Linked DNA regions of Homo sapiens. The protein of the gene in region 2 purifies or fractionates together with the protein of the main gene of each other region. This does not show direct contact. Each region holds a gene or a part of one and is shown on either strand. Other genes may lie near its edges.

Region 1 (7,848 bases), on a different chromosome or scaffold from region 2:
CCTGAGACACGCCTGCAGCAGCTGCCTTTTCCTCCTGTTGGCAGGTGGCCCTGGGCAGTGTGGCCACCCCGGTGAGGTAGTGACTAGCCTTGGGGAGATAAAAACGGGGGCCTGATAGGAGGCAGGAGGCCTAGTGACCCCTGGGCAAATCTCTTCCCTACTCTGGACCTCAGTTTCCCCATCAGGAAAGTGGGGCTTGGTCCCTGCCTCATCCTGCTGTCCTCCCAACCAGCATGCACACATTCATGGCATCAGCTCTCCCGACAGACCTGTCCTATGCAGAGACTGTTCTCAGAAAAGTCCTAGCCCTCCTCTCATCAGCTGAGTTGATTTTTTGGTGGCTCCTGGTGACTCCTGGGTCTTCCCTTCAACTCCCCAAAACCCCAGGGACCTGGGTAAAGGCCTCTCCTGGCCCTGTGGGGAAGGAGGTACTTGCAGGATTCCCAGGCACAGTAACCTTAACCGTGGGCCTAGGGTGGGTGACTGGAGGTGAGCTGGCGGCAGCGGGGTTAAAGCAGGAAATGCATGTTGGATGATGATGATCAAAGCTACCATCTACGGGGCGCTTACTATGCTCCAGGTCTGGTGCTACACAGTTTTCATAGCTTTATCTTCCCACAAGCCTATGTATGAGGTAGCTACTGCAGGCACACCTCATTTTACTGTACTTCACTTTATTACACTTTGCAGACATTGCATTTTTTACAAATTGGTTTATGACGACTCTGCATGGAGCAAGTCTACCAGCACCATTTCTCCAACAGCATGTGCTCACTTCCCGTTTCTGTCACATTTTGGCAATACTAGAAATATCTCAAACTTTATTATTATATTTGCTGTGATCTGTGATCACTAATCTTTAACGTTACTATTGTAATTGTTTTGTGCACCATGAATCGTGCCCATAGAATATGGCAAACCTAACTGATAAATGTTAGATGTGTTCTGACTGCTCTACCAACCAGCCATTCCCCCATCTCACTCCCTCTCCTCACGCCTCCTGATTCCCTGAGACACATTCATATTGAAATTAGGCCAATTAATAACCCTAAAATGGCCTCTAAGTGTTCAAGTGAAAGGAAGCGTCGCACATTTTTCACTTTTAATCAAAAGCTAGAAATGATTAGAGAGGAAAGCATGTTGAAAGCCGAGATAGACCAAAAGCTGGGCCTCTTGTGCAAAGCAGTTAACCAACTTGTGAATGCAAAGGAATAGTTCCTGAAGGACATCAAAAATGCTACTCCAGTGAACATGCAAATGATAGGAAAGTGAAACAGCCTTATTTGCTGATATGGAGAAAATTTTAGGGGTCTGAATAGATCAAACCAGCCACAACATTCCCTTAAGCCAAAGCCTAATCTAGAGGAAGACTGTCTCTTCAATTCTATGAAGGCTGAGAGAGGTAAGGAAGTTGCAGAAGGTAAGTTGGAGGCTCACAGAGATCGCCTCATGAGGTTCAAAGCAAGAAGCTGTCTCCAAAATATAAAAGTGCAAGGTGAAGCAACAAGTGCTGGTGGAGAAGCTGCAACAAGTTTTCCAGAAGGTCTAGCTAGAATCATTGATGAAGGTGATTACACTCAACAGCAGATTTTCCATGTAGATGAACCAGCCTTCTATTGGAAGAAGATGTCATCTAGGACTTTCATAGCTAGAGAGAAGTCAATGGCTGGCTTCAAGGCTTCAAAAGACAGGCTGACTCTCCTGTCAGGAGCTAATGCACTGCTGACTTTCAATTGAAGCCAATGCTCAGTGACCATTCCAAAAATTCTGGGGCTCTTAAAAATTATGTACAAGAGGCTGGCTGCAGGGGCTTACACCTGGAATCCCAGCATTTTGGGAGGCTGAGGTGGGTGGATCACAGGGTCAGGAGTTCAAGACCAGCCTGGCAACATGGTGAAACCCCGTCTCTACTAAAAATACAAAAATTAGCTGGATGTGGTGGTGGGCACCTGTAGTCCCAGCCACTCGGGAGGCTGAGGCAGGAGAATTGCTTGAACCCGGGAGGCAGAGGTTGCAGTGAGCTGAGATGGCGCCACTGCACTCCAGCCTGGGCAACAGAGTGAGACTCTGTCTCCAAAAAAAAAAAAAAAAATGATGTACAAGGAGACGAATGTTATTTTCATGCCTGCTAATGCAACATCCATTCTGCAACCTATGGATCAAGGAGTAATTTTGGCTTTCAAGTCTTATTTAAGAAATACATTTTATAAGACTATTGCTGCCATAGATAGTGATTCCTCTGGTGGATCTGGGCAAAATCAATGGAAAAGCTTCTGGAAAGTATTCACTATTCTCAGTGCCATTCAGAACATTCATGATTCGTAGAAGGAGGTCAAATTATTAACATCAATAGGAGTTTAGAAGAAGTGGATTCCAAACTTCATGAATGACTGAGGGGCTCAAGACTTCAAGAGGAAGTAACTGCAGATGTGGTGGAAATAAATAGCAAGAGAACTAGAATGAGAAGTGGGGCCTGAGGATGGAACTGAGTTGCTGCAATGTCATGATCAAATTTCAGTGGATGAGGAGTTGCCTCTTATGGAGGAGCAAAGAAAGTGGTTTCTTGAGATGGAATCTATTGGTGAAGATGCTGTGAACATTGTTGAAATGACAACAAAGGATTTAGAATATTGCATCAACTTAATTGATAAAGCAGCAGCAGGGTTTGAGAGGATCGACTCCAATTTTGAAAGAAGTTCTACTGTGGGTAAAATGCTGTCAAACAGCATTGCATGCTACAGAGAAATTTTGTGTGAAAGCAAATCTCACTGTTGTCTTATCTTAATAAATTGTCGCAGCCACCTCGACCTTCAGCAACCACCACTCTGATCAGTCAGCAGCCATCAACATCAAGGCAAGACCCTCCAGCAAATAGATACAACTTTCAGATGACCATTAGCATTTTTGGCATTAATTTCTAATCAAGATGTCTACATTTTTTAGACATAATGCTATTTCATACTTCATAGACTATAGTATAGTATAAATATGACTTTTATATGCACTGGGAAACCAAAATATTTCTGCAGCTCTCTTTATTGTGATATTTATTTCTGTGGCCTTCAACTGAACCTGCAATATCTCCAAGGGATGCCTGTTTTAGGATTCCCCCTTTACAGACAAGGAATCAGAGGCTTAGAAAGATGAAATAACTCCACCAAGGTCCTAACTCCACCAACTAGCTAGCAGCGAAGCCAAACCCAGGCCTGCTTGGCTTAATCTCTTGCTAGGTTGACAGAGGCACCACTCAGCCACCAAAAGACTTTCAGGCCCTGGTGTCCCCGCCTCCCGGCACTGACCGGAGTGCTGGCCGCAGGATGCCATTGCCGATGATGAAGTGCAGCTTCTCCAGGTTGGAGGTGGGCCGGTCCTCCAGCATGCTGTTGCCCTGCACTGTGGACTCCCCGTCATGCAGCCTCTTGGTCACCTGGGCCAGAGGGAGAGGACAGGGCAGGTAAAGTTAGGGGTGTTCCCCTGCCAGCCAGGGCACCAGCACCCGAGGCTGCCTGCTCCCCAGAAAACAGAATCTAAGGAGTGAGCAGAAGAACTGGGCTCCCCATCACTGTCATTACCCCTGCCACGTGCACAGCAGATGCTGGGCCAATAACTGGCCCACACAGCAGGGGCACACTGGCCCGGTGCCACCCACTTCTGGGGACAGAGCTCCTCTGGCCACCTCCTCGATACCCTGCACCCCACACCCCACCCCAGGGAGGTCCTCTCAGCCAGGACAGGGACATGATCCTCTGACTCCAAGCGGGACCCCTATCTCTCTGGGGTGCCCCCGCCAACATAACTGTGGCACCTGGAGTATACTCCAGGTTCCAACCACCAGTCACCACCACTCTGTCACCAACACCCTTAGCCCCGATGTGACCAGCCTCACACCAGTTCTTATGAGATGTTTCTCCTCTCTCATCCCACACAGCCCACAGCACAAGCCCCGAGCTCTGCCCAGAGGATGTAGGGTGAGTGAGAGGCGAGCGGCAGGAGTGGGTGGTGCAGACAGGGAGCACCACTGAACACCCTCGGCTGCCATTTCTGCCTTCTTCCCAGGACCCCACGGAGTGGGCATTTTCTTCCCTGGGTCCCTTGAATACTAAGCGGCAGAGGTGGGATTCAAATCTGAGGCCACACACCTGCAAGGCTGGATTTGTGCCTCAGGTGGGGACAGGACAAGGGCAGAGGTGAAGTGGGAGCCCCTGACTCTGCAGTGGAGGAGCTGGGGAGGCTTCCTGGAGGAGGTGACCCCAGGCAGAGAAAGGAGGAGTTTCAGGCAGAGGGACTGGCATGTGCAAATGTGGGGATGGGGGCCTGGCCCCCAAGGCTGTGAATGCCTTGGTTTGTGTCTGCCTCTCCAGTGTATCCTCCCCTGCCACACACACACCAGCCTGGACAACCCCAGAGCACAAGGGCTGGGACAGTGCCCAGAAAAGGCAAAGTGACTGAAGAATGAATTCAAATAAATTAATCCTGTTCATGCTCCATGAGCACTCTTGTTCCACAGAAAGCTCCCATGCCTCAAAGGTCCTTGGACCAAGTGCCTCGGGTCTGTGCCCGGCTAGAAGTGTATTCCCTCTCAGCTGTGCCGCTACCGGCCTCCCCTGCTCAGTGCCCTCTGCTAGGAAGCCCTTCCCACCCCCGGCCTGAGATCCCACCCTCTTCAGACACTCCTGTCTGCCTGATCGCCCACCAACCCACTCATGTTGTCCTGTCCCTGGCCAGCCAAGACCCCTGAGGACAGACAGTGTCCACTCCTGCTCCTGCTTCCGTGGGCCCCCAGCTCAGCTGTGCTCCAGCCTAGGCCACCTAAGGCAGCCACCCCTGGGCTGCCAGACCCCCAGCGTCTGCCCTCACCTCCTCTGTGAGCTTGGACTTCTTTTTCAGAGTCAAATGCACCAGCTTGTGCCTCACACTGCTCTTCTTCTGGCCCTCGGGGAGCTGGGCCTGCAGGACCAGCAGGGATCAGGGTCAAGTGGCTGAGCAGAAAGCAATGTCGAGACCCCCGACAGCAAGACTTTGCGGGGAACCGTCTCGCTTCCACGTGAAGCTTACAGGGTGTCCCCCACACTGCCACCGTCCACCTGCTCACCCCTACCCTTGCACCCCCACTAGCCAACTGGCAGTCAGGAAAACTGAGACTCAGAAAAACATAGTACGGGAGCTGGCTCCAACTGCAAAGCCCCTGTCTGCTCTGCCATGAGGCCCCTCAGTTATGGTCAGCACTTTACAGTTTATAAAAGTTGCACACATTTGTTCCCACAAGTAGACAAAGGAGGGTGGCAGGCAGGGGTCGGTGAGGCAGAGATGAATTATAGGATCCTTTTTCTGCAGAGGAGCCCAAGGCTGGTGATGCCAGCGGCCCTCCTTGTCGGCCTGGGAGGGACATCATCCAGAGGGCACCTTGGCCTCACCTCGCCCTCGCCCTGCAGGGCCTGCAGCTCCCTCTTGTACGTCTTCTTGCCCAGGGTCTCATAAATCTTGGTCATCACAGGGATCTTCTCACTGCCATCACTCATGGCTGTGTGGTACTTGGGCTCAGGGAGGTCCCCCATGAAGCGGAGGATGGTGATCCAGACCGCCAGGGCTGCCTGGGGCAGAGCGCGCATGTCAGAGGCCAGAGCGGAGGACATTGCTAAAGCTGTCAAAATGACCTGGCGGTTTGGGGAGTGGGCTGGAGACACCCCCTCCCGCATGGTCAGCCCTCAGGCTGGGCACCGCAGTGAAGACTATAGTCAGACCTGGTCCCTGGCCCCCAGGGACCCACCACCCTCATCACCTACGGCCACCACCAGCAGCAGAGTCCATAGCCCCAGCCCTGGCCCCACCCAGCAGTGACCTAGTGACAGGCAGGCCTTACCAGCTGGTCACCCTCGTCGTCATGGTAGAGCAGTGGCTGTTTGAGTGGCCGCCGGGTGTAGGAGTGCGTGGTTGTCCCCTGGAAGTAGGTGGCCGCGAACTTGGCAAATTTATACTCAGAGAGGTCCTCCTCATCCTCGTCAGGCAGGGGCAGGGCTGCATCCAGGTCCTCCTCCACCATCTCCCTCCGCCCTCGCTCCAGGTCCTGAAGGAGACAAGAGGTATGCCCTGGAGTCCCAGCTACTCAGGAAGCTCAGGTGGGAGGATCGCCTGAGCCCAGAAGTTCAAGGCTGCAGTGAGCTGTGATCACGCTACTGCACTCCAGCCTGAGCAACAGGGTACGACCCCATCTCAAAAAAAAAAAAAAAAAAAAAAACAAAAAAAAAAACTTGAGAAGGGCGTTGGAGAGGGACAGGACCTGGGACCTGCAGCCCGGACCCAGTTCATCTCTGCTCCCCACTGTTCAGAGGGACTGGGTGGGCTTTAAGGCCAAGGGCACAGAAGGAGGGAGGATCAACACAAGCGGTGTGTGTGGGCCTCTGGAGCCCCTGTCCCTAGCCTGGTACCTCAAAGCCACTAGGTGCCTGGCCCTCCTGGCCTGGCAGGCCACCTGAAGTCCCCAGGAAGCCAAACATCTTGTCCACCATGTCTGAGTGATTGACAGGCTCATGGCGGGCCCTTTCCATCTGCTCCAGGAGCTCCTTCTTCCGCCGAGCGGCCTCCTTCTCCTTCAGCTCCCGCTCAGCGTCCTCACGAGCCAGCTGGGCCAGGCGCTCCTGGGCAATTGGGGTGACACAGAAGACACGGGGTCAGCCCCCGGTGCCACAGCCTCAGGGAACAAGCTCTCCCTGGGGAGCCCCTGCAGCAGCCAGGGCCTCAGTCCCCACCTCCTGACCGCTGGGAAGAATGGAGCCTCTGACTTCCCCACCTCTGGACCACTCAGAGGCCTCTCAACAAGCCAAATAACAATCCTGCCCGTCCTTCAGGGCTCTCAGGGAGCCACCTCCTCCAGGAGCCTGCTCCATGGGGACCACACCAACCCAGACATCCCACGGCCATTGGCTTGAGGCTCTAGACCAGTGTTGCCCAATAGGAATACAATGTGAGCCACCCATATAGTAGCCACGTTTTAAAAAGCAAAAAGGAATAGGTGGGATTAGTCTTAGCAGTATATTTAACTCAATATTTCCCAAATATTAACTTAGCATGTAATCCATATTATAAAAATAATACTGAGATATTTTATATTCATTTTTCCCCCACCAAATCTTCAAAATCTAGTATTTCACACTTAAAGCACTGTGTCATTCGGACAGGCCACACTGCAAGTGTTCAGTTGCCACTGTGGCTGGTGGCTCTCTATTGGGCAGTGTAGCACCCTCGTGCCGTCAGCTGGCTTGTGCTTTTACCAGGGTGTTATCTCAACAACTAGAAAGGGGCTGCTGAGGGCCTGGGCCTCTTCCTCTGGAGCCACCACAGCCCTTCATCCTTTTGCATGGCACAGGACCAGGTGCCCAGCGAGAGCTCAGGCAATGCTGGCTGAGTGGGTCTAGTGTGGCCATTCTGAAGGATGGAAGGAAGGCTGCAGCACCGGGTGACAGATGAGAAGCCAGCCTCGGGGAGGGGACAAGCCAGCAAGTGGACACCTAAGGTGCCTGGAGGCTCTCAGCTCACCTGATGCTTGCGCTCGGCCTCCTCCTTGGCCTTCTTGGCGCTCATCTCCTTCCGAAGCTTCTCTTCCTCCGCCAGCCGCATTTTCTCAGCCTCGAGGCGCCACAGATACTGAGGGAAGGGGGCATCCAGAGGGCATGGAAATGTGTGTAGCTGTTGTTGCAGGGATTCCCACCAGCTCCACCCACCCAACTCTGAGTTCTGGAACTGGGCATGACTTTGATAGGACAAGTGAGGTAATCAAGAAATTCTCTAGGTCACCCAGCGGGCTGGAGGCACCACTGATCCTAAAGCCCGGCCAGATCTGCGTCGGTCTCC
Region 2 (7,848 bases):
CCTATGAATGTGAGTGTAAGAGAAGTTTCTCATGGTTTCAATATATAAAACAAGCTTTAAAAGTCACAAAGAGATGCACTGGACAAACCAAGCATGACTTTCGTTATTACATTTAGAGAAGAGATAGGTGGTATTTTCAATAGAAAAAGGATACTAACAAGTTAAGAGACCTGGAATCTAGATTCCAAACTACAGCATGCCTCTAGATCAAGTCTTTTTGCAGAGGATTTAGGACTGATCTAAATGCCACATTATTTTGACATAACAACGTACAGATCCATAGGACATACTGACATACAGCATATGAGCCACCATTTTTGATACACATTTTAGTTTCTCCTTTTGGTCCTGTTCTTAATTCAATGACTGCTAATGTCTTTAACAGATTCAAAGTGCTGTTTCACTAGGCAAGGTGTGGGGCATGTGGTGGTGAGGGGTGGGCAGTGGTGTGAAGCACAGGCAGGAGGCGGTCGTGGTGGGGTCAAAGCAATGCTGACAATATGACTTCCACAAGATTCTGAAAGTGGACTGAGTTGTTTAGAAGGCAGATTTCATTTCATACAAAGAATAGCATTTAAGCTCAGAGTGTTACAGTAGAATGAGTGGACTCTCCTCAAACTTGCAGGAATTACCCAACATGGCCTAAAAATAATGATGTTTTATTTTATGTTGATGAAGGCGTACCTACTAGAATAGACTTTCAGGATTAAAAATTAAATCATTTCAAAGAGATGATAACCTGCAAATGGAAAAATCAATACTTGGGTTTTCAGATTTCTTACTACAGCTAACACAAGGAGGCAGAGTATGTCTCCTGATTATTTGTTTCAATGAAAGTTTGATGAGGCTGTCTAGTCACTAACCAACTATGTCTCCTGATTATTTGTTTCAATGAAATTTCGATAAGGCTGTCTAATCCTCTTTGGAGAGGGCCTCTAGTATGTTTGATTCTAACTAACCTTGAAACTTCAGAAGACTCTTCTTTCCTGAAAGCTTTTAGGAATCTACATTTACTACTGGGAATAGAGAGGAAGACATGCACCAGAAAAATAAAGAAATTTAAGTCTAAATGTCAACATCCTAATTATATAACCTCTAATTGAAAAGTGTAGAATAAATACGCTAGTCTCTGATTGCCACTAACACTCAATGTGTGACTCTGCATTCAAAAATAATAATAATCTTGAGTTTTTCAGTTCTGTTGTCCTTGTTTATTTATAGGTAGAGGGCAGGTCCAACACTGATCTTGTATTATAAGAGCCAGCTACTCAAAGAGCTGGTAGTATGTATATCCAAGCACTCCTGCTGAACACGTTAATGAAACACTTTTCTTTATGCCACAGTGTGCCTTGGGAAGGTGACAGGGGTACCTCTGCTGCCATTAAAAATCAATTTTCTTTGCCATGAATTCTTATTCAGAAGTGCCAGTTTCTCCTTAAGGAGAGCTTCGTAAGTCTCCCAAAATGATGCTCTCCTGAGAAGTCCTCTTCTGATCTCTCCCAAGTTATGTCTGCTGCAGTAAATTCTATCTGTCTTTAGTCTATTTGACTTTGGTTGATGTGCCCCAATAGTATTAGATCCCAAGAACTGTAGGGCAGAGCATATTCAGCTGTTTTTCAGGTAAGTAGAAGTCTCCTCAGCTTTGCTCTCTAAGTGAGCATTAGGCAACAAGTGCTCATTTGTTTTCTATTGATTTTGTTCTTATTCCTGGAATTTGTTGGAATCAGTTGTACCTTTTAATGTGGAATAATAGTTTTAATTCAAAGCACTGGCTGAAAGAGCAGAGCAGAGGCACTTCATACAGAATTATAAGTCAAAACACTTTAGTCTGCACAAGTGGCACTAAGTGGGCAAGCACGATCACCTGCAAATCAAACATCATTTTAAAACGCAGGGCCTTTAATGTTTATACACTTTTAAAGGCACCTTCGTAAACATTACTTTTGTTTGTCTAGGACAAGTAATTACAAGGAGAGTACTGTAATGCAGTGGTTGACAGAATGACAAACTAGAACTAGAATATCTGTTTTCTCACCCATGATAGTACATGGGTCAGGAAGGACATTTTAAAATTTCACCATAATCACTCCTTACCTGCATCAGGTAGTAATAAATTCCAGCCAGGCCATGAGCAGCCCCTACATAATATTCCTGGTACCATTCATACATCAGTGGAGACTTTGCCGTGAAGTTTCTCTTCCTAGCTAGGTTTTCTCCAGAGGTTAAAATTGTTTCACAAATCTACAGGGAGAAAACCAACCAAAATAACAAGTTAACTGAACAAAAATCTTCCTGGAGGAGGTAAAGACTTTTTTGCTAAGAGGTACTGGGGAACATGACAAATTAGACACCAGCTTATAGCCAGGGAAAGGCACAGTTTAATTCTCCATCAGAGAAGTGTGTGGGACTGTATTTAGCCTAGAAGGGGGAGGGCGTAGAGGATCTTGAGCTCTTTGCATTACAGTTTACAAGAGTTCGCCTGTCAAAGAAAAGCATAAACTCCTCTAGGCACCACCAAAGGAGATCCTCCATCTGGGAGGTGAAATTTGGCTCTAATCCTCTTTGGAGAGGGCCTCTAAATTCTGAAATGGAGCAGACTGGCCTTCGGACTCTTGAGACAGAAATGTTTCCAACAGCACTCCGTAGAAAGCTATTGGTTCTTGGACTGTGCCCAACCTTTAGAGGTCCAGATACACCTTCCTTTATATGGAATGTGCTAACTACAGAGACATAAACAATAGTTTAGGCAGATAGTAAGTAAATGGGATCCTAAAAAGGCTCCTAAAAACACAAAAACGTGGTACCTGCTGAATATGGCTTTGAGGAATCTTTTCCACTCCAAAGTTCTTATTGACAAAAAGAAGAGCATAGATGTAGCCTATTCGCCCATAGAGCATTTCATTTGGAGCATGAGGATCAATCTTATTTAGGTGAATTAGCCTAAAAATAAAAATACATGCCCCAAATAATTTGAAAGGAACCAGGTATTGGTGTATACTTAAAAATGGTACATTGAAAAAAATATACATGCACACAAAATATGTATTTATACATATATAATATCTATTTATAGAACAGTCACGGTTCACAGATTAGCCCTCCATTAAATTTCTTCACTTAACAATGGAACTGACAAATACATTCATAAAATGAAAGAATACAAATGTATGGCTGAGGCTATCTGAAATCTCCCTAGTTCCTCATGGAGGCAGGCCCTAAGGTGAGTATTTTAGCAGTTGGGGTCAAAGAAGCCAAGAACTGCTGGCTTTTAGGGCATTTAGCCCAGAGAAAGGACTAAGCCAACACTCAAATGGCCCATCATCTCCTTCCTTGGTTTATTTCTTAATGTGTCACCAGGCCTACTTGAAGTAGGTTTCATCTATCACAGTCAATAATACATGTACATTTTTTTTTTTTTTTGAGACAGTTTCGCTCTTCTTGCCCAGGCTGGAGTGCAATGGCGTGATCTCGGCTCACCGCAACCTCCGCCTCCCAGGTTTAAGTGATTCTCCTACCTCAGCCTCGCGAGGGGATGGGATTATAGGTACACACCACCACACCTGGCTAATTTTGTATTTTTAGTAGAGACGGGGTTTCTCCATGTTGGTCACGCTGGTCTCCAATTCCCGACCTCAGGTGATCAGCCTGCCTCAGCCTCCCAAAGTGCTGGGATTATAGGTGTGAGCCACTGCAACTGGCCAATACATGCAAATATTAATAGTACAAGAGGTGTCAGTCAGGTCTCCATCTCCTCAGTCTCCCAGCCTTCTAGTTCTCCTCAGAAATCACCATGGTTACCATTTTTTTGTGTGTATTCCTAGATTTTATGTACACATAAGCATAAATATACATATGTATAAATATTCTACAGCTTGCTATTTAACAATACATCTTGACAATGGTTCCATAACAGCACACAGAGTAGTCACATTCTTTGTAATACTTGCATAGAACCCCACTGAATTATAGTTCATTCAATCCCTACGGATAGACTCAGTTGAGCTTCTCAGAAAAAGTTACTTTCAGTTCTGATTTCAGGTAAGATGGAGCAAGCATGCTCTGCACCTTGTGTCTCCCTCAAAATGTGGCTCTAAAACCTGGACAGGATACAGCAGCTATTTGAGGTCTCTGAAAAGCAAACAGTAACATGCAAAAAGGGGAAGAGGACAGGAATCTGAAGTAGCACCAAACCAATGGTGAGTTTACCATTTTTTCTCTCTGGTATTCCCCGGTCTGAACTCAGTACAGCACAAAACCCAAAAGTAGGCACAAGTAGGCTTATAGAGACCCAGAAGAAGCCCTCTAGTGCTGTCTGAACAAAGAGAACTCCTAATATCAGAGAGAATGGGTTAACCCTCCATTTTTCTTTATTTTCCTTTTCTCAGTTCTCTTGTGCCCCAAGCTACAAAGCAATCTCATGCTGGGAGCAGGTGCGAAGACAAGGGGAGCCCTGGGAGCCTAAACTCTGAGGGAGGGAAATTTCCCCACAGATTGGAGGAACTGCAGTCTTAGGAGGGGGTTATAAGCCCCCATTGCTTTACTTCTCTGTCCTCCACATCACCTGGCCCCAGATGCATGCATAGTCATAGACATGGCACAGCAGGGTCATCAAAGCCCCACCCTTTTCATCAGAGACCAAAAGGGGAAGCCTCAGGAACCAGCAAGTAGGGGAGAAGATCACAGAGGGAAGTCAGTTTAGGAAAGTAACCATCTTTGGTAGTTTGACCTCTGAGAATGTTCCCTTTTTGGGGGGAGGGGAGTGGGCAGCAAATATGATAGGGAAGAAAAATGTCCTTGCTATTTTAGATGTTTTGTCACATGAAATTTTGAAGTGCATCTCAATCATCCCTAAATTAGCCTATAAATTTGATATGATCCTATTTAAGTTAAAACATTTTAATTTTTGGTGAAACTTAACAAAATGATATTAGCACAAAGAGCCAATGAAACTCTGGAAGAAAGTAGTAATGAGACGACATTAGCCCTAACAAATGTTATCAGGTAGCTTTCGACACTAAATCTTTGTTCTTAAAATTTTTCATCTGTGAAATAAATAGTCCCTTCCAGTTTAGAAATTATCGTGTTTATCTATATGGAAATTTAATTTTAAAGTAGTTAAGCAGAAGCAGTGTGCCGTGCCTGTGCATGTCTGTCATCTAACTTCAGTCTATACACTAGGGATGGTTAATTAGCATTTGAAGTAACAAACATCAGGTCCCTCCAACCCCCGCCCCAAAGTGATGTATTTGAAGTACTCTAAGCAGGAGTCAACACTCAGAGGTACTCAGCACTGAAGTGCCTCTTTTTCATATAGGAACTTTATCAAAATCTACACCAGAGAATTTGTTATTATTAAGGAATGATAGAAAATGGTTTTTCATTGGTGGAATGAGTGGTAAAGATGGGCTGGAGGTTTGGAAGATGGTACGGGCTTTCCCACTCTTTGATGAATAAAGTCTAAGAAGGGCTTGAGGGCAATGTGACTTTCTCTGAGCTACAAAAACAGGGTAGGAGACTGTATGTATGTATGTATGTGTGTCTAAAGAGTATCTTCTTCCTAAAGTGTTTGCACAGTTGGCAGAATTGGGCACCCACTTGTGCTTTCATTTGAACATACTCAGAAGGTAGGGGTAGAGCTGAGGGGGTTTACAGCCTTTACTGCCAGTCTCTGGAGACCACCAATATGTACAACAAAAACAAACAAAATCAAACAAAATCCCAAGCAAACAAAAACCTAACAATTGTTACCACCAGGCTATAGATACAGTGAGTGAAAACATCCTAGCTCAGCAAGGAGGGCAGATATGAAAGAGAACAATCTTCCTCTCCCATCTCCCTCTCCACTACTTCCACACGCTTGTGGTGAGGGGGGAGAAAACATTTAAAATGAAGAGGATAGGTTTTAAATAAGCAGAATGAGATGATTTTAGTGAGTGAAAGTGGCTGACAGTTATGAAAGAAAGACTGAGAGAAACTTATGAAGGAGTCTTTAAGGGAACTGCAGGAAAGTGGGGGTTGAAAAAGCATGGCTAGTTGCAGTTAGTGAAACAGTTTAAACTTTTTCATATTATTTCCTCATCAAATTGAGGCAACTCAAATTAGTTAAATATGCAAATGCTGGCTCATCCATTTTTTTCTTCTACAAATATAGGCAACAATTCATAGTGAAACAGTGGTTATCTTAGGAAGAGATATACTGAGAAATAGATAACCAAGAAACTTGGCTAGAGGTTTCTTTCCTTTTTCTTCTAATACATTTTCTTGTATACTTTGACCTTTTTTAAAACAATAGGGCTTATGGATAGAATTATGGGCCATTTTGTTTTCTACTTCGATACCATATATATCTACACACACACACTCCCTTAATTTTTAAAAGTAATTTTTAATTTTTGAATACGAATTTTAAATTTTTAATAAAAACATTTATTAAGAATTTTTTTTCTCATTCCAGAACTGGGAGCTCAGTAACGTTGGGGCCATAAGAAAACAAAATGTGTTTATTAGATACAAATTCAACTGTTACAGTAAACAATGAATATCTCAAGTTTTGATATGAACCTATTTTTAATATAAATGTGTCAAATTATATAGAAGTTCAATATAAAGTACTTTTGACTTACTTTTGCAAAGATTGAAAGAACTATGAAAAAAAATTACTGTAATTTTTTTTAAACACATACTGTTCTATGGAAGTATTACACCGAATTACTGCATTGATTCCAATGATATTCCAACTGAAATAAAATATTTGAACCACGGCATTAACTCCATTCCTTTTTTGCTGATGTTAGGACATACATTACCACTAGGTGGCAATATATAATTAGCATTCCATTTACTTTGCAGCCAAACACATTTGCATTTGCAACATTCAAAGTAGGTAGCAAATACCTTTCAAATATTTATCTAAAATACAGTATTGCTCAGAGCATCTTATTAAAACAATACAGTTTAGGGTAATAAAGGAAGCATATCCCTTTTTTTCTGGATTTGAATTCAAATCACTAAAATTCATTAGTTGGGTTCGATGATTACTAGGACTTAACTGCAAGTTGTACATGCTATATTCTCAAGATATAAGACTAAAAATAAAATATTTATATTAAGATATAAAAATAAAGAAATGATATCACTGATAAATCATAATGGTTATTTTATGTGTTTTCAGAAACTCTCAAACTAACAAGCACTTTGTTGCAGCTTCATTTATTTGTTTTGATATGTTGATATTAATGCAACCCATCTTTAGAAGAGATAGCCAAGTCACTGAAATGTCACTGAAAGAAGAATGAAGACACACAAACAGGATAGTTCTGTTCCTCTCCTCACAGTACTTCCTCAGGGTGTTACTGGGGAGAGTTTTTGGCCTTGTATTATCAAAAGGTTTGTAACTTTAAAAACAGATGTCCAGTGTCTGGGCAGGGCATTTCTGAAAAAAAGGCAGCAGCCCCAGTCAGGGAATTACAGATAAAACCCCTATCTCCCTAGGACAGAGCACCTGGGGGAAGGGGTGGCTGTGGGCACAACTTCAGCAGACTTAAACATTCCTGCGTGCCGGCTCTGAAGAGAGCAGTGGATCTCCCAGCACAGTGCTCGAGCTCTGCTGAGGGAAAGACTGTCTCCTCAAGTGAGTCCCTGCCCCCCTGTGCTTCCTGACTGGGAGACACCTCCCAGCAGGGGTCGACAGACACCTCATACAAGAGAGCTCCGGCTGGCATCTGGCGGGTGCCCTCTGGGACAAAGCTTCCAAAGGAAGAAACAGGCAGCTATCTTTGCTGTTCTGGAGGCGCCACTGGTGATCAATATCAACAAAAAGGACATCCACTCAGAAACCCCATCTGAAGG
Region 3 (7,695 bases), about 47 Mb from region 2:
GGTCATGATCTTCACTAGCTTTTGTGGTTTTTTTTCTTTCTTTTTTTCTTTTTTTTTTTTTAGGGGAAAGGGTGGTACATAAGGACTTCTTAGTAACTTTATTGAAGTGAAAATCATGACCCTTATACTGCAATTTTATGGAAGCATTAAAAAATTATCTTGTCACTAATTTGCATTATTGTAAGAACTACCTCAGATTTTTGTGAGTAATATGAAAGAAAAAGTCTAGTTTCATAAACAGCTACTAAGTTCTAGAATGTGTTTTGAAACCCAGGAGTTTGGAAGAATATATTATTAGTTTAATGTTTTATTAAAATATTTAACATTTAAGTTCAAAACTAAAAAACAATATTTGAAAAATTAAATTGAATTGCGTTTAGCATTTTATGAAAAACTATACATGATAGCCCTCCAAACTTCTTTCCTTAAAGCATCTTGTGACCTACATCTCCCTCATCTTTTCTACCCGCTGTCTACCTTCTGCCTCCACTGATTTTTTTTCCTTTCCTTTCCTCTCCCATCACTTAGGTAAAGCACATCTCTGTGTCCAGCCTAGCTCATATTTTCCTTAGTCCAGTGCAGACAAGTCTATGGTCATTTGCAAAATCACATTCAGTATCACTTTGCTTATTCCCTTAACCTTCACTTTTGTTGTTGTTGCTTACATTATTTTGAGAAGAAAAAGCAGAAAAAAGTAGAATTCCCCTCTGAATTATCTTGAAAGGAAGGCATACACACACACACTCCTGAAGAAGAGTTATGTTGATTTTTCTTCTGATTTTCTTAAAAAGCACAAGTTTGAGTATACTGTGTATTAGAATTTCACATATTAGTCAAAATGTTATGCATTATAATGTCTGTGCATTTAAAAAGTAAAATAGAAAGAGAAATGATATTGCTAATAGAGTGGGAAAAATTAGTCAAATTTATTATTTTCTGAAATAACTGTTTCCCTGACTAGCCAATCAACTTCCTTTAAACACTCAATATTTAATTCTCATGTTATATCAAGAAGTTTCAAAAGATATTATAGAGATGGATGTCAGCTACAGCCAGAAACATTTCTTTTGATTAAAAGTTTTGAAGATAAATGCATACAGAATATGATGACTGTTAAAGTGCTTTTTAATCATACCACATAATTAAAGATAGTTTTATTAAAACAACAAAAACTGAACATCGCAAACAATGCCATGAATCTCTGTGGAAAAGAAAGTCAAGTTTTATTTTCCTTTGCTTAAAATAATTGGAGAAAAGCAACTTTTACCTATACTTAAAAAAAAAGGGAGAAATAGTGCAATGACGAACTCTCCTGTGTATCTTATTATTATGGAAGTCCCATAATGTATATTCTATTATGTAAGTGTCTTTTATTCCCAGAGTATATGTAATTTTGAACAATTTAGAAACTCTGTACCTCTATCCAGTGCTCTTTTGAACAGTTTTCCAATTATTTGATTCCAAAGTTAATTATATTTATTTGCATGTTGAATGATTTTTTTATAATGTGTATTTCAAATGAATCTATAAGGGAATTGGAAAGGTACAGTTATTATCTATTAATAAACTCTTGCTGACCACACTTTTTCCTCCTCTTTTTAAAGAGCAGGGGTTGTTTTATTTTAGATATTACAGATGAATGGCTTTAAGTCTGTCATCAAAATACATTGTTTTTATATTCAGTGGGCACTGTATTATATATTTTATTCACTATTTGAATTTACACAAGGAACTGTAAATTCAACGCTAGGATTTAATGTTAAAGGTTGATGAGCTCTGAACTTTTTTAACAAACAAGAACAGAGCAGTTTTGCCCGAATTGCACAGAGCATCTGCTGTGTGTCCAGAGGACTTTTGGTCGTCATTCCCCAAATGGGCAATAACTGCGATTATGAGCGCTTCACAGTTTTTTTTTTTTTTTTTAATTCATCTGTACTCAATCCAACAGTGACCCACAGATATTTCCCTACACTTATTTCTTTGTGGTAAAATCCAATGAACAACTTTTCGTAATATCATTTTCAAAGCCATCTTGTAAAATATAACTAAAGAGGTTTCAGTGTTCTCTGTTACATCAGAATAAAGTTCTTCTGTTTTATTTCGAAGACTCCTTTTTTAAAAAATTCACAGAAAGGTCAAATCCATTCCAAATAGAAATCTCATTGCTTAGAAATATTTCTTAGGATCTCGAATCACTCTTTTTTTGTCTTTTAAATTCTGTCATCTGCCTAGATTTAACTGAAATAATTTTTATTTCTCAGTGTGTTAGCTAAAGGCATCCATTCAAAGGTAAGAACATCATAAAAGGTGAATGGAATTAATTTCAAAGTATATATTTGGCATTTTTAAAGAGCTGCATTTCAGCATCTGGAGAGCTGCAATTTAGGCTATCAAATCTACAACAGAGAAGCTGGGGGAAATGTGAACACCCTTATGAGGAGGGTCAGTCCTCAGCAAGTGCATTTTCGGTTCCAACCTTCAAAGGTAACATTTTCAGCTTGATGGGCTCCTGGTGGAATATATAATTTGCCTCTTTCATTCTTAGCTTCGTTGAAATATAGAAGACTGGATGTCTACCAGGCCAAAGTATAAACTCACCATTTATCTATTAAAGTCATATTTAATGAAAACGAAGAGAAATTATGACCCAATTCACTCTCTTTCTCATTACAATTCCTAAAGAACTTTGCCGGGCACATTATCTCGTAGACATCATGATCAAATGTTATTGTTTGCTTTATTATCTCAGTTGGATGGTTGGCTAGTCTAGAATGAAATAGGTTGAAGGCAATACTCTCAGCCTAGAAGTCTGAATGAGGTTCCCATTCAAATGATCCTGATTGTTTGCGGGTGGGGCGGGGTGATTAGTAAACCAACTGAGCTTACACTGCATAGTAAGCGTCTGGATGCCGCACATTTACATCTAACAAGAGACCCCAGAAAACGTGTGTGTGTTTCTTAAACCTTATGTTCCGAACAAAAGGCTATCTCAGCAACAGACAATCAGCACTGCATTGCTCCCTGGGATGCGAGCAACACACTCAACTGCACATTTCATTCTTCCTCGGCTCCCAGCACCACAAAGCCCCTACTCTCTTCCCACTCCTGGGTCCCCAGATTACTCCATAGAGGGGGGTTGGGAAGGCAGAAGCCTAACGTCTATGCCTGCGCACCAGCCGCCGACACCAGGGCCCCCCGGGCGCTGCTTTCTCCAGCCCGAGCCGCCTGGGGGAGGTAGGGAGGGGAGCCAGGGAGCGCGAGAGGGGACCGCACACCTAGACACTTAGGATTTTATTTATTCACAGGGAGGCGGGGGAGGGGAACTGGGCGAACGCGAATTTTCTCCCCGAAGTTGCCTCTTCTAAGCAGATCAAGTCGTTTTCTGGCTGGTGCTGGGGGCCCCGGGGAGGGTGCCGGTGAGGTCCAGGCTCTCGAGACCAGATCCCGTCCCGTGCGCAGAGGGGGTGGGGAAGGGCGGACGGGCCGCAGCTGTCGAGAGGGCCGGGAACCGGCAGGGAAGAGCCCGCGGGCCGGGGAGCAGCGCGGCTCTGTCCCGGGCCCTCCAACGCAGGCCGGGGAGCGCAGGGGCCGGCTGGTCACGCGTGGGAAAGAAAGCCCCCTTCCCCCTACGGCGCTGCTCCCCTTTCCCCAGGCTGGGCCGCCAGAGAGTGCGTGCAGGGAGAGCTGCGAGTCCCCGCGCGCGTAATCATGACCTCGGGGCCCCCTCCGGGCCGCGTGAGCGCATCGGCGAGGCTGGGCGGCCGCCGCGGCCCCGGCCGTGTAACATGACCCGAGCGGCCGGCCGGCCGGCGCGGCGCGGCCATTGAGCCCTCCCTGCCCATGAATCTCTGGCGCGTCTCTAGCTCGCTCGCCGGCTCGCCTCCCGCCTCCCTTTCTCCCCCTCCAGCTCCGCGGGCTCCGTGCGCCTCTCCCTCTCCCTCCTGGTCCTCCCGCTGCCCGTCTCTCTCCACTGCCCGCCTCTCGCCACTGCCTCCCGTCTTCTCTCCCTCACGGCAGCCTCCGTCTCTTTCTCCCTCTCTCCTTTGAAAACTGATCTTTGGCTCTTAGTGTGAAAGTGATTTGAATTTGGCTCTGCGGCGCTCTGCGCCTGCGCCCAGCCTCTGGCATGCTGGCTCCTTCCAAGCAGCTGTTTTGGGTTTGAAATTCCAACATGGCAGAGGCTGCAGTCCGTCTTCCCTTCAAAAACTTGGAATGATTTCAAATCATAGGCACCTTCACTTAACCCTAGCTTCCATTCATCAGCAAACACATCGGATCGATGCTACGCTAACCTATCGGGTTCTCTCTCCGCGCGTTCAGGTAAGAGGAGCTTCGTAGTTTTCTACCATCTGTTTAAATTTGTTTTTGTTTTATTTTTAAAGAATATAAATACATCCAAGACCTGTAATTAAAAGAGATCTTCAGTTGTGCCGTAAACATTAAATTCAATTTCCACTCGTTTCTATTCTGTACGCCAACCTGCTGTCTAATTTCTCTGTTCAAAGTAGCCCTGAAACATTATAATGCATATTTTTGCTGCTTAATCATTGTAACAATAGTATGGGATTAAGAGTTCGCGATTGCAAGAATCTCGCTTTTCGCTATATTGGGCTTACTTATTACTATCTTTTTACTTCAAAAATAAAAAAATAAGAAAGCGGAGCCATAGGGTGGGGCTAGACTTTCTTCGGGAACTAACTTCTAAGTAAATAAGAAGTGTAAATAAGAATCTTGCACACACACAAAAAGTTGAGGTTAAATTACAATCTCGTGGCTGGGGGAACGAGAAAATGTCAGAAGATCGGTTGCAGAAAAATGTAAGCACATCATCTAGGAGGGGGTACAGCGTGGTGGGCGTATTGTTGGCAAGGAACGGGAGAGAAAGATGTATAATTTAATGGTATATACAATCCACTGATCCTATTACCGTCCTCCCCGGAGCTCTTGTTAGTTTCAATGGGAGTGAGTGAAATTGACATGGACTTGCATTCCTGGTCATGTGCTTTTTTTCCTTTCTTTCTTCTCCTGTGATCTGAGATCCCCTTTTTGTTGATGTTGCTTTCCCCCTTAATTATATGCATGTAGGTTAAATGAATACCTGACGAAAGGGCCCACGTTTCAAGGCAGTGACATTTGATAGCTGAGAGGAAAAGTGGCTTTAATGAAAAGCAACCTTTGGAATTCCTGCTTGTGAGAAATCCAATTCAGCTTTTTGTGCTGCCAGCAAGAAATGATCAGTAGCACCAGTGTTTATGGTATGTCAGTTTTGGAATTTACTTCCTTTGCATCTAAATAGGAAAGACAAATGAAATAGCATGATAAAACCATTGAAGACTGCCTGGCAAGCAGTTGCTCATGATATAGAATTCCTTTTTTTAAAAAATATATGTTTAATGTCACCATGCTTTTTTTTCTTTTGCTATCACTTGTTTGTATATTGCAGTTTTGATTAATATATTACTTGAATCCACTTTTATCGGTTTTAGCTGTCATCCAGAAGTTGCACGTTACTAGTAATGCACTATATATATATAACTGCTGAAGTCAAATAGTATGTAAATTAGTTAAACTCAGTGTGGGTTTTTTTTTTTTTTTTTTTTGAAGGAGGGAGGCTGGGCAAAGGGGAGAGGGCAGGAGTGTTGGGAAAGATTACTAACTAATGAAAGTGTATCTATATATATGTACACACACAGGAACAGGACTGGATGAAAATTTTATTTTTCTCAATCTATTAATGCAGTTTGACTATCTGCTCTTGATGTTTGCACTTTGTGGAGTAATCAGTTCTTCTGAGTGTGGTTTTTTTTTGGGGGGGGCGGGTAAGTGAAGAGGTGTCTTTTACATGAAAATAAAAATTATATTTTGATTGTCCAAAGTCCTTGATGTCTTTTAAAGAGTAGGGATAGGTTTTTCTTCCCCCTTTCCATTCACTCGTCTGCCTGTCAGCGCTTTTTACTTTTAACTTGTGACAGAATTAAATAATCAGGCACTGAAATTGACTTCGTTTGAAATCGCTCTTTCCTTTCTTTACAAAAAAAAAAAGTCAGTTAAATGGAGTGAGAGGGGATTTTCAATAGCTCTTGTGGCAGTGCCCTGTGTACACTTTGTAATATTCAATTAAGACAGAGGGAACAACAACAACAAAAAGATGTTAAAGTATTTTGCATAACCAAAGGATATGTCCACTTTAGACTGTTTTTTTTTTTTTTTTTTTTGGTTGTTGCTATGTTTACCCCATGACCGTTAATTCCTCCTGAAAAGAGAGAAAGAAGGAAAGAGAGAATATGAAAAAAGAAATAACAGTGGGGCAAAGCTGCCAGGGGTCTGTAGTGTGGCCGTGGTCACTGCTCTCTCCTAACACAAATGTGAATACGAAGAGAGGAACTACAAGACCCGTTGCGCGACATACACGTCTGGTTGGACTCTGGTGACTATTGAGCTAAATACACACCACACTTACACGATAGGAAAGATTTGATTGAATTTTGCATTTGGAACTTGTTGACTTTGAAGCGATCAATAAGAAGACTGTTTATTTTAGATGCACATAATTTGCCCTGAGAAATGTTTTAAGGAGGAGAGAGCACAGCTTTTTTTCCCCCGGAGCTGTTGGAGCGAATGGGATTGCCAGATGGGCGATTTCCCTCTGTGATGTTAAAGCTGTAATATATATTCAGAGCAGATTGGGCTGCTGCCTGTGATGAGGAGGATATTACATTTATAAATTTTAAATCGGAGCTCGGACAATGTGCTGAGAGCAGAAATTGGATGGTTTGACTGTTCACCGTATTGATACTTAAATGTGATTTCTAGGTAGTACTAATAATAATCATTGCAATAATTCATGAAAAACATACTGGCATAGGCAATTATATAATTCATGACATTTAACAGCAGATTTGAGTGTGTAAATTGCCCCCCTCTTAAGTCTCTGCTTACTATTAAATAATAGTCACATAATTCATTTCCCTATGTTTAAATGTCCGATGTGCAAATGATGTTAACTTAGGAGCCTTGTTATCATATATTAGAATTCTAGGGGTGAAAGTTTACATACATATATATAAAGTAGACACTTGTGTATATGTATAAAGTGGCGTTACTGGCTCTTGTTTTCTAATTCTTTACTCTGATTATTTTTAGATTTTGTTTGTCTCAAATGTGCGGCCTAAAGGAACCAGAGCTACAAACCTAAAAGACTAGAAAGTGGGCAAGTGCTCACACTCTGGCAGCTCTGCTGTTGCAAATTAAAAGTGTGTTGTGGTCAGGAAATGAAAGCTACAATGTCTCTTTTGAACAAGTCGTTTATCAAGAGAAACATCTATCAGGGACTGCCTTGTCACATTGATCCTCTAAAAGTTAGGTCCGAGGTGGAAGCTGCTTTGATGTTTTTGATCCTAAATTTAATACAACAGAAAAAAAGCAAGGATATTTTGACCAGTATAGATTTTTAAAAATGTTTCCTGGAACCAACAAGATCTATTTATTAGGATTTCACTATGTGTGAAGTTTTCTGGACGTAACAGTTGAAAGGTTGAAGGGGAAATCCCAGACTTTATAAATTGATGATTGTTAGAATATACATTTATAATATATTTAGTGATGGCTGGCTTCTTGGTGCACATGGAATGGACGTTTTGAACACAGATTGTTCAAAAGGAAAATTATTTTGAAAGATTATTTTGGAAGAATATG
Region 4 (8,180 bases), on a different chromosome or scaffold from region 2:
GTGATGTCACTAGAGTTGACCCTATCCCTTCCCTGCTCACAGCTCTTCTCTGGCTCCCCAGTGCTCCCAAGTGAAGGTCTGAGCCCCACAAGCCTGGCGTTGGAGACCCTATGTGGTCTGCCCCTCCCACCTCTGGAGAAGACCTCATTCTTCTAGCAACCTCGGCCCACTGAATTTCTTTCAGTCACTCTCCATTACTGGCTGATCCAATCCAATCATTCTCTCCCAGCTCTGGGCCGCTCTACCTAGAACCTTCTTCTGTCTGCCTGCTGAACTCCTCCTGTTCCTTCAAATCTTATCCCACACCCCCTCCTCCAGGAAGCCTTCCCTGACCCCTTCATGTGGGTGACGAGCCCTCTCAAGGCTGTGCTGGGTGCCCCCCTCCAAAGCAGCGTGAATCACACCCTATTGATACTGCATCCATCTCCTTGAGCCCCACCCATGACAGCGAGTTTCTGGAACGTGGAATGTGCATTTCATAGGTCCTTATTCCCCGGGGCACTGCCTAGAGCTTGGTCCCAGAAAGCTTCAAGAGACATATTGAAAAAAGGATATAGAGGCAGAAACAGGGACAGAGGTGAGGCAAGACAGAGATGGAGAAAGGGAGAAGGGCAGAGGAGAAAACAGGATGAAAGAGAGAGCCGCAGGCTGGGTGCAGTGGCTCACACCTGTAATCCCAGCACTTTCGGAGGCTGAGGCGGTGGATCACCTGAGGTCAGGAGTCTGAGACCAGCCAGGCCAACGTGGCGAAACCCCGTCTCTATTAAAAATACAAAAATTAGCTGGGTGTGGTGGAGCACACCTGTAATCCCAGCTGCTTGGGAGCCTGAGACAGGAGAATCGTCTGAACCTGGGCAACAAGAGCGAAACTCCATCACAAGAAAAAAAAAAAGAAAGAAAGAAAAAAGAAGGAGACAGCAGGCTCAGGACTAAAGCCAGGAGATCCGCTAATGCACGAAGAGCACTCTGCCCAGGCCTCCCGGCCCTGGAGTGGGGCATGGAAAAGTGCCAGCCTGGCCAGGTGGCAGAACCAGGACTGCCCGGGTGTGGGATGTCCAGGGCACTAGAGATCTACCATAGGGAAAAGAATCAGATCGAGGGGCCAGATCTCCAGGAGCTGAGGGAGGAGGGTCCTGGGCCCAGGATTCTTGGGTTCTAGGGAAGAAGGGGCCTAGCGGGCCAGACTCCTGGGTCCTCTGAGGGCACTGACTTGCATCCAGTTCTGCATGAGGCTCTCCCAGACTCATGGGGATGCGAAACCCAGCTTGGTCCTCCTCTAGCATCTGAAGCAGCTCCTCCTCGGTCACGTCGGCGGGAGGAGGGATAGAGGGGGAGTGGCAGATGTTGATGAAAACCTTCCCTTCCGAGGAGTTGGTCTTTATGCAGAAACCTGGTGGGAGTGGGTTAGTCATGACAATCCTTTTCTGCACAAGTCCCAGTCCCCATCCATTGTCTCCAGGCTCTGTCTCTTTTCCTTTTGCCCTGTCCCCCTTTTTTGTTCCACTCCCCACCCGAGATCCCTCACTTCTCTTTTTTTTTTTTTTTTTTGAGACAGACTCTCACTCTGTCACCCAGGCTGGAGTGCAGTGGCGTGATCTCGGCTCACTGCAACCTCCACCTCCCAGGTTCAAGCAATTCTCATGCCTCAGCCTCCCAAGTAGCTGGGATTATAGGCGCCCACCACCACGCCCGGCTAATTTTCGTATTTTTAGTAGAGATGGAGTTTCACCATGTTGGCCAGGCTGATCTCAAACTCCTGCCCTCAGGTGATCCTCCCGCCTTGGCCTCCCAAAGTGCTGGGCTCCCGGCCCCCTCTCTTCTTTGTTTTCTCCTTGTTTGTTTTTTGAGACAGGGTCTCACTGTGTCACCCAGGTTGGAGTGCAGTGGTACGATCTTGGCTCACCGCAGTCTCTTCCACCTGGCTCAAGTGAGCCTCCCACCTCAGCCTCGTGAGTAGCTATGACTACAGGCACGCACCCACCAAGTCCAGCTAATTTTGTTTATTTTTAGTAGAGATGAGGTCTCACTATGTTGCACAGGCTGGTCTTGAATGCCTGGCCTCAAGCAATCCTTCCACCTCGGCCTCCCAAAGTGATGGAATTACAGATGTGAGCCACTGTGCCCAGCCTCTCTTCCTATCTTTGTTGTTGTTGTTTGTTTCGTTTTGTTTTTGAGACAGAGTCTCGCTCTGTCACCCAGGCTGCAGTACAGTGGTGCGATCTCCACCCACTGCAACTTCTGCCTCTTGGGTTCCAGCAATTCTCCTGTCTCAGCCTCCCCAGTAGCTGGGACTACAGGCACGTGCCACCGCACCTGGCCTCTTCCTATCTCTGATTCTCTGGCCCCCTACCTACTCCTACTCTGTCCTCCAACTCCTTTCTGTCCTAGGATGATCTCTGTGGGTGTCTGCTCACCCCACCCCCACCCTAGGCCTTTATTTTCGTGTCTCTTTCCTTCCTCCTCTCTCTGTCCTCTCCCTGGGTCTCCTGTCCCTCTCTCTCCGGTGTCCTTTCTCACCAGGCTGAGGCTGGATTTGTGTCGATTCTGGTCTGGTTGTCTGGGCTTGCTGGAGCTCCTTCGAGGCCTGTATAAAGGAAAACTACCTCCAGGCTCGGAGTCTGTGCCATCAGACCCCTCATTTGTTCCTCAAATGGAGCAATTCTTATGCATGAGAGCTGTGGATAACGCGAGAAATTAGACGGTTTAGGTCCCCTTTCTCCTTTGAGAACTAGAAGAACAACCCCAACCCCATTCCCATTTCTTTTTTTTTTTTTTTTTTTTTGGAGACGGAGTCTCACTCTGTCGCCCAGGCTGGAGTGCAGTGCCGAGGTCTCGGCTCATTGCAAGCTTCGCCTCCCGGGTTCACGCCATTCTCCTGCCTCAGCCTCTCCAGTAGCTAGGACTACAGGTGCCCGCCACCACGCCCGGCTAATTTTTTGTATTTTTAGTAGAGACGGGGTTTCACCGTGTTAGCCAGGATGGTCTCGATCTCCTGACCTCGTGATCCGCCCGCCTCGGCCTCCCAAAGTGGTGGGATTACAGGTGTGAGCCACCGCGCCCGGCCCCCCACTCCCATTTCTTAGCAAACTTGAAGCCCATTAACCTCAATTCCCCGAGGCCTGGTTCCCGCCTTAGTGCATTCTGGGAACTGCAGTCCCATCTTTGAGCACCCCGCCAAAATCCCCGAATACTCAAGGATCCAGGGGTCCGGTCACTGCACCTGCAGCAGCAGCTCCTCAAATCGCGCCGAATCAGCACCGATCGCCTCCGCCTCGCTTAGCCCCATTCCCAGCAGCTTCGGGTTCGCCATGGCCCTGGGAAAGAGATCTAGGCGTCCTCGAGACCCTCAACGTGGGAAACTTTGCCCAGGATCCGAACCCCAGTGCCTGCTCTGGCCCTCAATCGACTCCGGATACCTACTATCCTGTTCAAAAACCTAAGACTGGCCTAAGACTACATTTCCATTCAAGACCGAACACCATCGTCAAATCCGTGGGGAATATGTGTCTCTAGACGCACTACCCTCCGTCCTACGTGCCGAACTGTAAACGAAGCCACACTTCCGGTCTATCGGTAAACACAGGACTGGAGTATGCCACACTTCCGAGTACCCCAGTGTTCATTCACAAGCTGGTATCGCGTTATCGACAAGCCACGCCCCTCGCATCAATCAAAAATAAACCCCAAGGCGGATCCCTGAGTGCCACACTTCCTGTATCTATGAAAGCCACACTTCCGGCTGGGCGCTGTGGCTCCTACCGGTAGTCCCAGCACTTTGGAAGGCCAGGGCAAGAGGATCGCTTGAGGCCAGGAGTTCGAAACCAGCTTGGGCAATACAATGAGATAACGTCCCACACCCCATCTCTTAAAAAAAAAAAAAAAGCGCCAGACTTCCACTCTTTCCACAACCAAAACTGGCCCCCTTACTTTGCAGTGAAGGTTGCATTTTCCAAACCTTAATCTCAATGTCCATCCTAAAAGGTACCCTTTTTATCTTTGAATTATCACTTCCTGCCAGCTCTAGATCCTAATACGTCCAGATCTAGACCCGCCAGGTCTAGATCTAGATCTAGACCTCTAGTCAATATAATTAGAAAAGCTGCACTTTGAGGCTGGGAGGCCGAGGTAGGAGGATCGCTTGAGCCCAGGAGTTCGAGACCAGCCTGAGCAACATAGCAAGATCCTGTCTCTACCAAAAAAAAAAAAAAAAAAAAAATTAGCCAGGCTTGATGGCACCTGCCTGTAGTCCCAGCTACTGTGCAGGCTGACGCAGGAGTAATGTTTAAACCTGAAAAGTCGAGGCGACAGTAAGCCGTGATCGGACCACTGCACTCCAGCCCTGGGCGACAGAGGGAGACCCTGTCTCAAGAAAATAAAAGGTAAAACAAAACCTGCACTTCCTGCTACTATAAAACAAGGCACTGGGAAGACGCATCAATAGGACGACCCTTTTTTTTTATTACTATTTTTTTTTTAGACACAGTCTCCCTTTGCCACCCAGGCTGGAGTGCAGTGGCGCGATCTCGGCTCACTGAAACGTACACCTTCTGGGTTCAAGTGATTCTCCCGCCTCAGCCTCTTGAGTAGCTGAGATTACAGGCGCGCACCACCACAGCTCGGCTAATGCTTGTATTTTTAGTAGAGACGGGGTTTCACCAAATTGGTCAGGCTGGTCTCGAACTCCCGACCTTAGGTGATCCGCCCGCCTCGGCCTCCCGAAGTGCTGGGATTACAGCCAAGAGCCATCGTGCCCGGCCACGCCGATCCTCATAAATCCGGAGCCCTCCTAACTATTCGCAAAGTACCCACATCGCCGTCTCCCCTTCCTCCCCGTTTTAAGCAGTGCGCATGCTCCTAAATACGCTTCCCCGTGGGGGACGTAGGCGGGGCCATCGGGTCCTAAGGAAAAAGTGTGGGCGTGGCTGCTCTCTGTATCTTGTAGCCCCACCCCATTCCCATTAGCCCCGCCCCTTTGGGCTGGAACCGGAGGTGTCGCTCTTCGGACCTCAAGGTTCCCCTTAACACAGAGCGCCCCGCAGTCTTCGCGGAAAGCGTTCGGGGTAGGCGATGGCTGCGACGCGTGCAGGGCCCCGCGCCCGCGAGATCTTCACCTCGCTGGAGTACGGACCGGTGCCGGAGAGCCACGCATGCGCACTGGTGAGAGTCTGCCCGGCCGGCGCTGCTCGCTGCGTTCCCCAGGCCTGGGCGCCCGGTTTTTCGCGGGGAGTCCCGTCATCCACTGCGGTAGCTCAGCCGCTCCGCCTCTCTTAGTCCCCGTGATTCCCGCCGCCCAATAGGATCGCGCCCTGTAGGACGCTCCCTTGAGCCTTGGCGGTGGCAGCCTTTTAGTCTGTTCCGGTCTTCCCCACTGGTTCTCTTGCCCCTTGATCCTGAACTCCTCGTAGTGTTTCCGCGGTTTTCCTGAACTCCTCTAGACGCTCTCGTGATTCCTCAGGGTCCCCTCAGAACCTGACGCCACCCACCAGACCCCTTAGGATTCCTGTGAGGCTCCAGTGACCCACAACCCCCATTGTCTTTCCACGACTCTTCAAAACATCCTATGGCTTCCATGGGCCTCCAGAGCACCCCAGACCTCCTGAGGGACTCCCTTCATCCCTTTGATTACCCAGAGACCTTCAGAACTTCCATGGAGCCCCCGTGATCCCATAGGACCCCTCAATACTCGTGGGGTTCATGTGACCTCATCGGAACTCTCAGGAGCCTAGAATACATCAGGACTTCCGGTTTGGGTTGGGTTTTTTTTTTGTTTTTTTTTTTGAGCCAGGGTCTCACTCTGTCGCCCAAACTGAAGTGCACTGGCGCTATCACACCACTGCAGCCTCAACCTCCTGGGCTCAAGCCATCCTCTCACCTCAGCCCCCCAAGTAACTGGGACCAGAGACGCGCGCCACCACTCTCAGCTAATATTTGTACTTTTTCTAGAGACAAGGTTTCAGCATGTTGGCCAGGCTGGTCTCGAACTCCTGGCCTCAAGTGATCCACCCACCTCGACTTCCCAAAGTGCTGGGATTACAGGCGTGAGCTACTGCACCCAGCCACATCAGGACTTCCTGTAATTACTTATGGCCCCTCACAATACCCTCACGGGGCTCCTATGATCTCTCTAGCTCTCAGAATGTCCCATAGGGTTCCCATGATTGTTCAGGAACCCCTGAAGTCCTCGTGAGGGTCCCATGATCCCCTGGGGGTCCTCAGAACCTCCCTAGGACTCCCATGACCCCTCAGAGGCCCCCAGAACCCTCGTGGGGTTCCTGCAAATGAGTAGGGCACCTCAAACTTTCTGTCGTTTCCCCAGGCACTCTCAGAATTCCTTCACGGGGCTCTCATGATCCCCCAGGGTCCCCCAGCACCCAGGCGAAAGGAGCTTAGGCTTCTTTGAGGGGGAGGGCAGGAGGCCAGAGCAATGATCCAAGTGGAAGGAACTGGATCAGAACCCTGGCACAGCCTAGAACTTGGGGAGGCCAAGACGGGCAGATCGCCTGAGCTCAGGAATTCGAGACCAGCCTGGGCAACATAGTGAAACCTCGTCTCTACTAAAATACAAAACATTGGGCCAGGCGTGGTGGCTCAGACTTGTAATCCCAGCACTTTGGGAGTCCTAGGTGGGCGGATCACCTGAGGTCAGGAGTTCGAGACCAGCCTGGCCAACATGGTGAAACCCCATCTCTACTAAAATACAAAAATTACCTGAGCGTGGTGGTGTTTGCCTGTAATCCTAGCTACTTGGGAGGCTGAGGTGGGAGAATTGCTTGAATCCAGGAGGCAGAGGTTGCAGTAAGCTGAGATTGCACCACTGCACTCCAGCCTGGGCAACGGAGCAAGACGCTGTCTCCAAAAAAAATACAAAAATGGCTGGGCGCAGTGGTTCACACCTGTAATCCCAGCGCTTTGGGAGGCCGAGGCGGGCGGATCATGAGGTCAGGAGATCGAGACCAGCCTGGCCAAGATGGTGAAACCCATCTCTACTAAAAATACAAAAAATTAGCTGGGCGTGGTGGCAGGCACCTGTAATCCCAGCTACTTGGGAGGCTGGGGCAGGAGAATCGCTTGAACCCAGGAGGTGGAGATTGCAGTGAGCCGAGACCACGCCACTGCACTCCAGCCTGGGCAACAAGAGCAAAACTCCATCTCAAAAAAAAAAAAAAAAAAAAAAGGAAACAGAAAACAAAAGATTAGCCGAGGATGGCAGCACACACCTGTAGTCCCAGCTACCCGGGAGGCTGAGGTGGGAGGATCACCTGAGCCTGGGAGGTGCAGTGATCATACCACTGAACTCCAGCCTGGGTGACAGAATAAGACCCTGTCCCCCCTGAAAAAAAAAGAAGTTGAGGCCAGGCAAGTGGCTCACACCTGTAATCCCAGCAGTTTGGGAGACCGAGGCAGGAGGATCACTCGCACCTAGGAGTTTGAGACCAGCCTGGGCAACATGGTGAGGCCCTATCTCTATTAATATAAAAATAAAACATAAAAAGTGAAGTTGAGACTTGGACTTGAGTCCTTGCATTTCAGACCCGTGGTCTTGCCTACACCAGCAAAGTTCTCAACCGTACAGTCTCTGGGCCAGACTCAACCAACAAACATGTTTTCTTTGGCGTGAACTTTATTTTTTTTTTATGTGAAATGCTGGACAATTGATTCCATGTAAACATCCGGGAGGTCCTCTTGAAAATAAAATTCCAAAATGTGTCAACATTTGGCTCAACTTCCCTGACAAAAGTCATCTGGGACCAATAGCTCCTGTCTTTTCCATGAATCGTTAAGCTCCTCTTCTCATCCAGGCCCTCTTCTCAGGCCTCCTGGAACCCTCTGGACATTCTTTTGGAATTTTGTTTTTCTTTTGGGGGGAAGCTTTCCAACTTGCACAGAATAATTAGCATTTATTTTGAACTCCTGTTTACCCATCACTGTGCCTCAACCATCATCAACATTTATCCCAGCGCTGTTTCCTTCTGTATTTTCTTTGGAGTAATTTAAACAAATCCTGGATGTCACAGTATTTTCCTATAAATATTTGAATCCTTTCTTCTAACAGATAAGGGCTCATTTTGTTACAAAACTACCATGGTCTGTTACCACACTTAACATTAAGTCATTCTTTTTGTTTTTTGTTTGTTTGTTTGAGACAGGATCTTACTCTGTCGCCCAGGCTAGCATTCAGT

Evidence for each region.
Region 1: the proteins of LANCL1 (region 2) and MYO7A purify together in Homo sapiens (affinity purification with mass spectrometry; 3 studies listed by BioGRID and IntAct, with this or other methods). This does not show direct contact.
Region 3: the proteins of LANCL1 (region 2) and FIGN purify together in Homo sapiens (affinity purification with mass spectrometry; 3 studies listed by BioGRID and IntAct, with this or other methods). This does not show direct contact.
Region 4: the proteins of LANCL1 (region 2) and ALDH16A1 purify together in Homo sapiens (affinity purification with mass spectrometry; 4 studies listed by BioGRID and IntAct, with this or other methods). This does not show direct contact.

The regions. Positions count from the first base shown.
Region 1 is NC_000011.10:77,180,167-77,188,014, reverse strand, and holds part of MYO7A (unconventional myosin-VIIa), read right to left. Parts: intron 7,642-7,848; coding exon 7,534-7,641; intron 6,636-7,533; coding exon 6,426-6,635; intron 6,065-6,425; coding exon 5,861-6,064; intron 5,592-5,860; coding exon 5,415-5,591; intron 4,948-5,414; coding exon 4,858-4,947; intron 3,428-4,857; coding exon 3,300-3,427; intron 1-3,299. UniProt on the Homo sapiens protein: Myosins are actin-based motor molecules with ATPase activity. Unconventional myosins serve in intracellular movements. Their highly divergent tails bind to membranous compartments, which are then moved relative to actin filaments.
Region 2 is NC_000002.12:210,438,504-210,446,351, forward strand, and holds part of LANCL1 (glutathione S-transferase LANCL1), read right to left. Parts: intron 4,197-7,848; exon of another isoform or gene 4,039-4,196; intron 2,941-4,038; coding exon 2,805-2,940; intron 2,242-2,804; coding exon 2,095-2,241; intron 1-2,094. UniProt on the Homo sapiens protein: Functions as a glutathione transferase. Catalyzes conjugation of the glutathione (GSH) to artificial substrates 1-chloro-2,4-dinitrobenzene (CDNB) and p-nitrophenyl acetate.
Region 3 is NC_000002.12:163,732,463-163,740,157, reverse strand, and holds the start of FIGN (fidgetin), read left to right. Parts: upstream 1-4,149; 5' UTR 4,150-4,320; intron 4,321-5,085; 5' UTR 5,086-5,230; coding exon 5,231-5,255; intron 5,256-6,216; exon of another isoform or gene 6,217-7,695.
Region 4 is NC_000019.10:49,448,265-49,456,444, forward strand, and holds the start of ALDH16A1 (aldehyde dehydrogenase family 16 member A1), read left to right. Parts: upstream 1-4,960; 5' UTR 4,961-5,067; coding exon 5,068-5,157; intron 5,158-6,649; exon of another isoform or gene 6,650-6,670; coding exon of another isoform or gene 6,671-6,673; intron 6,674-8,180. Other genes in the region: PIH1D1 (PIH1 domain-containing protein 1), read right to left, coding at 1,211-1,390, 2,518-2,584, 3,221-3,310.